2 linked regions of the Homo sapiens genome follow. The protein of the gene in region 1 purifies or fractionates together with the protein of each later gene. This does not show direct contact. Each region holds a gene or a part of one and is shown in the gene's direction. Other genes may lie near its edges. The genes, in order: DHX29 and CKAP5.

The links.
Region 2: the proteins of DHX29 (region 1) and CKAP5 fractionate together in Homo sapiens (co-fractionation; one large-scale study listed by BioGRID). This does not show direct contact.

The regions. Positions count from the first base shown.
Region 1 is NC_000005.10:55,300,871-55,304,694, reverse strand, and holds part of DHX29 (ATP-dependent RNA helicase DHX29), read left to right. Parts: intron 1-3,824. UniProt on the Homo sapiens protein: ATP-binding RNA helicase involved in translation initiation. Part of the 43S pre-initiation complex that is required for efficient initiation on mRNAs of higher eukaryotes with structured 5'-UTRs by promoting efficient NTPase-dependent 48S complex formation.
Region 2 is NC_000011.10:46,797,707-46,801,530, reverse strand, and holds part of CKAP5 (cytoskeleton-associated protein 5), read left to right. Parts: intron 1-226; coding exon 227-331; intron 332-3,358; coding exon 3,359-3,448; intron 3,449-3,561; coding exon 3,562-3,726; intron 3,727-3,824. UniProt on the Homo sapiens protein: Binds to the plus end of microtubules and regulates microtubule dynamics and microtubule organization. Acts as a processive microtubule polymerase. Promotes cytoplasmic microtubule nucleation and elongation. Plays a major role in organizing spindle poles.

The DNA.
Region 1 (3,824 bases):
AAAGAATTTCTGAAGAGGCCGAATAGGGAGGAGGGTGGGGAGAGGTTCAGTATTAAATAGGATGGTCAGGGAAGGAAGGCATCATATAAGAAGGTGGCTAGGCGCAGTGGCTCACGCTTGTAATCCCAGCACTTTGGGAGGCCGAGGCAGGCGGATCACGAGGTCAGGAGATTGAGACCACGGTGAAACCCCGTCTCTACTAAAAATATAAAAAATTAGCTGGGCATAGTGGCGAGCGCCTGTAGTCCCAGCTACTCGGAGAGGCTGAGGCAGGAGAATGGCGTGAACCCGGGAGGCGGAGCTTGCAGTGAGCTGAGATTGTGCCACTGCACTCCAGCCTGGGTGACAGCAAGACTCGGTCTCAAAAAAAAAAAAAAAAAAAAAAGTGACATTTGAGCAAGCAAAGGAGGCAGGTAAAGTAGTTACACAGATGACTGGGTAAAGAGTCTCCTGGGGAGAGGGAACAGAAAGGCCTTGAGATGCAAGCCTGGAGTGTTCTAGAAATAGCAAGACCTTTCCCCATCTTTCTTTTACTGTCCTTCTCTTTGCCTTTCTTTTCTTTTCTTTCTTCTTTCCATTCCTGTGCTTTAGAAGTGCCACTTCCTTAGCCTAAGTATAATTAAGCTGCTTTATCATGTTATGACTGAGACCAAAATAAGAGGTTCAGTAATTTAAGTTTTCTCTTCCAACCAAGAGGCTTGTGTTTCTGAAAATCCTTGAACCTAGTTGAGGCTTAAAATTTTAAGAGGGGAATAAGAATTGGGAATGGATGTCATAAATTTATGAAAGCCATTATAAATTTTTTTTTAGGGTCACTAAAATAGAAAAAGTGCTATGAGGAACAGAAAATAGTGACTTGGTAAACATTAAATGGAGAATGGAGGGTCTATTTTGGTTTGAAATAGGAATAGCTTCCCTTAGAAAACATTTAAACTGAGATGATCTGCAGAGTATTTGTGGCAGAGGGAAAAACAAGCCTAAAAACCCTAAGGTGGAAACAAGTTTGACATGTTGTAAGAAGATAGTGCTGTGTGGCTGGAGCGAAGAAAGAAAAAGTTAAAATGTGGCTGGAAGTCTGGGAAGGAGCCAGAGCAAGTTCAATGGGAAGTGGGGGCCGGTGTTGGTATTAAGTAGAGGAGAAACTTTAGCTGGTTTACATTTCAAAATAATTAGTCAGGCGGCCCTGGCAGTGTGTACTTCCTCACAGGCCTTAATTGCTCAGACTACATCAATTCACCCTCATCTATTTTCTTGGCACTCTGCACTTCCCCTTTATTACTCATCTGAGTATTAGTTGCTTACTAATTATATTACTGTTCCAGAATATAAGCTCCATGAGGACAGGCACTGGGTCTGTTTACCACCAGAGTCCCTGTTTGGGTCCCTTGCCTGATTAACCATTCTGCAGATGTACACACTGTCGATCAGAAGGGAATCAGAGTGCTAACAACTCAAAGTCAATGTCTTAGTCATAGTGGGTCATTAGCATTGCTTTTTCCTTTAAAATACAGTATAAAAAGAATATGTAGCAAAAGAAAAGATTATTGGGCAATAAGAAACTGATTCTGGTTGATTTTTTTTTTTTAATTAGCTGAGTCATTTTGAGGAAATCAGTTTGTCTGTGCTTCAACTTTAATGTAATAAATATTTTTGAGAGCCAGCTATATATGTTGCATCGTTCCATGACCTTTCATTTATAAATTTGGAATTCATAATACTTTGCCTTGGAGATATTGCATACTAACATCCTTACTTCCAGTCAGATTTCCAGTAACTTCCACCATCTTAAACACAAAACCAAAAATTGTAAAAGTCTCCAGGCAATAAGGAAAGTAGCTGTCATAAATCTTATGCACTTTACTTGGCAAAAGTGAACGTGGCCCAGTGAATGTTGAGCAGGATTCCTTGATTTCTCTGATCATTTTTCAGAAACTCAGCTCTTTTGTTTACCCTCTGGAAGTTTGCAGTATAAGCCAACTTCAAGGAAGTGATACAGTTGAAACTCTTAGGTGAAATGTTTGGAGGAGACAAATGAGAATTTTACTTTAATCTTTTCAACTGGGTAAATTAAAAACCAACCAGTTTTTTTTTTTTTTTTTTTTGATAGGGTCACTCTGTCGCCCAGTGGCTCACTACAATCTCTGCCTCCCAGGCTCAAGCAATCCTCCCATCTCAGCCTCCCAAGTAGCTGGGATTACAGGCACAAGCCACCACACCTAGCTAATATTTTGTATTTTTTGTAGAGATGGGGTTTCACCATGTTGCCCCGGCTGGCATTTTTAAAGGAATTTACAGTCTTACTCTTGTCAGTAGCATATGAACTTTGAACTGTTTCTCCATGTAGTCTTGGTAATGTACTGCTCATCTATCTGTAACTTTTTAAAAGGGTTATAGCTGGGGCCTCTTGATGTGTTTGGGGACCTCTAAAACTGCATGCTAAATTTGTGCACAAGCTTACTATAATTGATAAGACTCCCCAGAAATAGTTAAAGACTACTAAATATATACTCTCCTTTATGACCATTGACATGAATTTATAGGAGAGATTACTAGAATTAAGGTAAAGTTTGAGACTAGACGATAAGGAAACTAACAATACTATACCAGACTTGTTATTATCTTTTTACATATGCCATGTAGCTTTGGGTACCTCCGATATAACTATAGCATAGCAGTAATTGACAGAGAACCACAAATGTTTCTCTTTCAGACTGCCCAGATGTACAAGTTAATTTCAAGTAGTTATTCTCAAAAACTTTTGTTCTTTTAAAATATCTAATTATATTAGCTACCATCTTAAAATGAAGAACCTAATGTAACCCAGCAGAGAGCAAAGTCTTTGACTTTAAAATCATAAGAACATTTAATGTTTAAATGTCTCAAAGTAGAAAAAATACTTCTTATTTTAAGGTGTATAAAAACCATGCAACTAGATTTATGATTCTGGAATCATTCTTGTTTTTTTTTTTTTTTTTTTTTTTGAGATGGAGTTTCACTCTTGTTGCCCAGGCTGGAGTGCAATGGCGAAATCTCGGCTCACTGCAACCTCCGCCTTCTGAGTTCAAGCGATTCTCCTGCCTCAGCCTCCCGAGTAGCTGGGATTACAGGCATGCACCACCACGCCTGGCTAATTTTGTATTTTTAGTAGAGATGGGGTTTCTCCATGTTGGTCAGGCTGGTCTTGAACTCCTGACCTCAGGTGATCCACCTGCCTTGGCCTCCCAAAGTGTTGGGATTACAGGCGTGAGCCACCACGCCTGGCCTGGGATCATTCTTATACAGCAGTGTTTCTCAAAGTGTGCTCAGGAGGTCCTAAGGAACCTGAGACTTGTTTGCCAAGGGCTCCATGAAGTGAAAACTTTTCATAATAATTCTGAGATGTTTTTGCCATTTTTCACGCTCATTTTCTCATGATTATGCAGTGAGGTTGTCCAGTTGGCTACATGATGTGTAATGTTACGGCAGATTGAATGCAGAAGCTAGATGTTACGAACTGAATGTTTGTGTCCTCAAAAAATTAGTATGTTGAGACCCTTACCCCCAGTGTGGCTATATTTGGAGATAAGGGCTCTAAGGAAGTACATAAGGTTAAATGAGATCACAGGGATGGGGCCCTGATCCAACAGGATTAGTGTCCTTATAAAATGAGATACCCAAGAGAGCTCAGTTTCTCTGAGTAAGCACAGAGAAAAAAGCCATGTGAACATATAGCAAGATGATGGCCACCTACATGCCAAGAGAAGAGGCCTCAGAATGAAACCTCCCTTGCTGGTACCCTAATCTTGGACTTCCCAACCTCCAGAACTATGAGAAATAAATTTCTG
Region 2 (3,824 bases), on another chromosome or scaffold:
GCCTGCTTAATTTTTGTATTTTTAGTAGAGACAGGGTCTCACCATGTTGGTCAGGCTGATCTCAAACTCCTGACCTCAGGTGGTCCACCCACCTTGGCCTCCCAAAGTGCTGGGATTACAGGTGTGAGCCGCTGCACCCGGCCTCAGAGTTCTTTTGAGAATAAAATTTCAATACCCTTCTACATGGCTGTGACTATTTTGTTTTCCTTTTTACCCCCCTTTGTAGGTTGTTGGAAAGGACACCAATGTCATGTTGGTGGCTTTGGCAGCAAAATGTCTTACTGGCCTGGCTGTTGGGCTAAGGAAGAAATTTGGACAATATGCAGGACATGTAAGTAACACTCCTTTTTAGATACAGATCAACAAAATTTATCAAAAATGGTAGGCCTAGTTTGCTGTTTGCTTTAAAACAACTCCTTGGCATAGATGTGTATATACTGTACAAAGTAAATTTCTCTCTGTTTTGTTAATATTCAGCATAGATATATCTTAGAAATTTCAGTAGATGTCAGTTGTAACAAAATTTATAGGCCTTATGTAGAAAGTCAGGCACTAGGCCTAAAGTACTTAGTTGAGTTTATTTATTTGCTTATTACTTATTTACTTACTAGTATCTTGCTTTGTTCTTACAACATTATACACATCATAACAAGATGAAACAAAACTTGTAACGACCAGGACCAGAATGAAAATGAGAGTCGGAAAGGCAATGTAAAACTATAAATGTAAAACTGTGAGGTTAATATATAAAATGTGTTTTACATTGTTTTCCTATTTTAATATATAATTTACTTACATATTTGAGACATTTTATATAGGTTACAATGTTATATATTTTATATAGGTTATCTCCGTTTTACTTATTCAAAGAAAATCTGACTGGAGACATTTGTTGACTTACTATTTGTATAAGTTTGTTTCCAATCAAATTTGGTAATAATTTTAATTAAGATGTTTTCTTTAACTGTGGCATCTGTCCTTTGGCCTCTAAATCCGGTCTGCATTACTAAGAATGGCTCAGCATCCTAAAAATTGACCTTATTGATCTTTAGAGTTTAGCTTGCTAGCCCCTTCATCATTTGATTCCCTAGACTGACTTAGGAGTTTCCTAATAGTCCCTAGTCATGTGTCCATTTTATATTGTGAAGCTAATACCTAGCCTCACATGAGCTATGGTATTTGGAGCTTGCTTACTCATAGCATTAAAAATAATCTCAGAGAACTTAACTGAAGAAAAAGAAGACACTACCAAATAAAAATAAATCATGACTGGCTTATTACTAGGGAAATAAAAATAAGGGTCTGTAAAACCCTTAGACATATACATCATAAATTGAAATAAAATTAAAATCTATTTTTATAGCAATCAATATTATATAATATCGATGTGTATATGCCATTTTGATCAATTTTATATTACTTAGGATATTTTACACTTTTATATTGGGAATAATTTTTCAAGATAAAAAACAATTTTTTCCTACACCACTTAAATATCAGTTCAGAGAATAATTTTAGTTTTTTTTTTTTGAGACAGGGTCTCACTTTGTCACCCAGGCTGGAGTGCAGTGGCACCATCTCAGTTCACTGCAGCCTTAACCTCCTAGGCGCAGGTGATCCTCCCACCTCAGTCTCCTGAGTAGCTGGGACTTCAGGCACACCCCACACCATGCTTGAGTACTTTTTGTATTTTTGGTAGAGATGGGGTTTTGCCACCTTGCCCAGGCTGGTCTCGAAATCCTGAGCTCAAGCTATCTGCCTGCCTCAGCCTCCCAAAGTGCTGGGATTACAGGCTTGAGCCACCACACCCGGCCTAAAATTCATTTTAATTTACCAAATTATGGTTGGATAATTAACTGGCTTTCCAGTTTGAGTTCTGATTCTGGCTTTGTTTCAGTTTGTTGTCCTGGTTAAAGAATGTCTCTATTGCTCTGTAGTTTGGGGTCTCCCCCACCTTAATACTGTAATATATGCGGTGTTTAGTATCAAGCATGTTACTGACTTGGCTTTATTTTCTTTAAATGTTTACAAACTTTTTGGCAATATTTATAAAAGTGAATGTTAGCTTTATAGACATTAAAATATCTTGATTTTCAAGTTTATAACTAGTATTAAAAAGTCTTGTATTTTTCCATGGGAACCATAGTCCTTGAACTATACCAAGTAGTCTATAACCACTTCTGTGAAATCTTGAAAACAATTATTTCTTGTTTTTGGATGCCATTGAGCTTTGCTGTGTCCTTTGGACCTTAGAAATTTTCTTCCCCAGCCTGGGCAACATGGAGAAACCCCCGTCTCGACAAAAAATAAAATAAAAAATTATATTTACAGGGAAATGGTCAAGAAATTAAGAATTAAAAAAAAAAATAGCAGGTGTGGTGACATATACCTGAGGCCTACCTACTCGGGAGGCTGAGATGAGAGGATTACTTGAGCCCAGGAGGCCGAGGCTTCAGTGAGCCATGTTCATCCCACTGCACTCCCACGTGGGTGACAGAGCAGAGGCGGCAAATAGGTTGAGAAGCACTGCCATAGTGGGAGAGAATGAGAATTCTTCATTGTTCCGGCATAAGATACGATGTCCTTCATGAAAGGAAATGACTTTTTATTCCACTTAAATGTTTGCTTTATTGGTTTGTTTTGGTGGAGACAAGGTGGTTTTTTAGAAAGTAAGTTTTATTGAGATAAAACTTGCATACTATAAAATTTACCCTCTTAAAGTGATTTTAGAATATTCACAATGTTACATAACCATCAGCACTATCTAATTCCAGAACATCTTCATCACCCCAAAAAGAAACCCCTTGCCCATTAACAGTCTCTCCCCATGCTGCTCCCTGCCCTTGACTCTAGCAACCACTAATCTACTTTTTTGTCTCTGGATTTAACATTTCATGTAAATGGAGTCATACAATACATGGTCTTTGTGACTGCTTTTTTTTTTTTTTTGGAAGACAGGGTCTTGCTGTGTTGCCCAGGCTACAATACAGTGATGCAGTCGTAGCTCACTGCAGCTTTGACCTCCTGGGTTCAAGTAATCCTCCCACCTCAGCCTCCCAAGTAGCTGGGATCATAGGCACATACCACCACACCTGGCTAATTTTTTTTTGTTTGTTTTAGTAGAGACAAGATCTCACTCTGTTGCCCAGGCTGGTCTTGAACTCCTTGCCTCAAGCAACCCACCTGCCTCAGCCTCCCAAAGTGCTGGGATTACAGGCATGAGTCACTGTGCCCAGCCTGTGACTGGCTTTTTTTTTAACTTAGCATACTATTTTTAAGGTTCAGCCATGTTCTAGGATATATCAATATATCATTCCTCTTTGTTGCTGAATAATGTGCTAGCCATTCACTTTTACAGGTTGTGCCAACCATCTTGGAGAAATTCAAAGAGAAGAAACCTCAAGTGGTACAAGCCCTGCAGGAGGCAATTGATGCAATCTTCCTTACTGTAAGTTGACAGCATGAGTTTGTAGTTTTATCTGAAGTAAAGTTTGTAAATATAATATTTTGATTGTTCTTTACAATTGAAAAAAGCTCATTAACCACATTTTCTTTCTAAAGACCACACTACAGAACATCAGTGAGGATGTTTTAGCAGTAATGGATAATAAAAATCCAACCATCAAGCAGCAGACATCTCTTTTTATTGCAAGAAGTTTCCGCCACTGCACTGCTTCTACCCTGCCAAAGAGCTTGCTAAAGCCCTTTTGTGCTGCACTACTTAAGGTACAGACTCTCTTTGAAGTTGGGGGAATATTTTATACCTAGGCAAGATTCTTTTCCTGCAAATTATGTACAGTGACTACTTGACTTTCAGACTATAG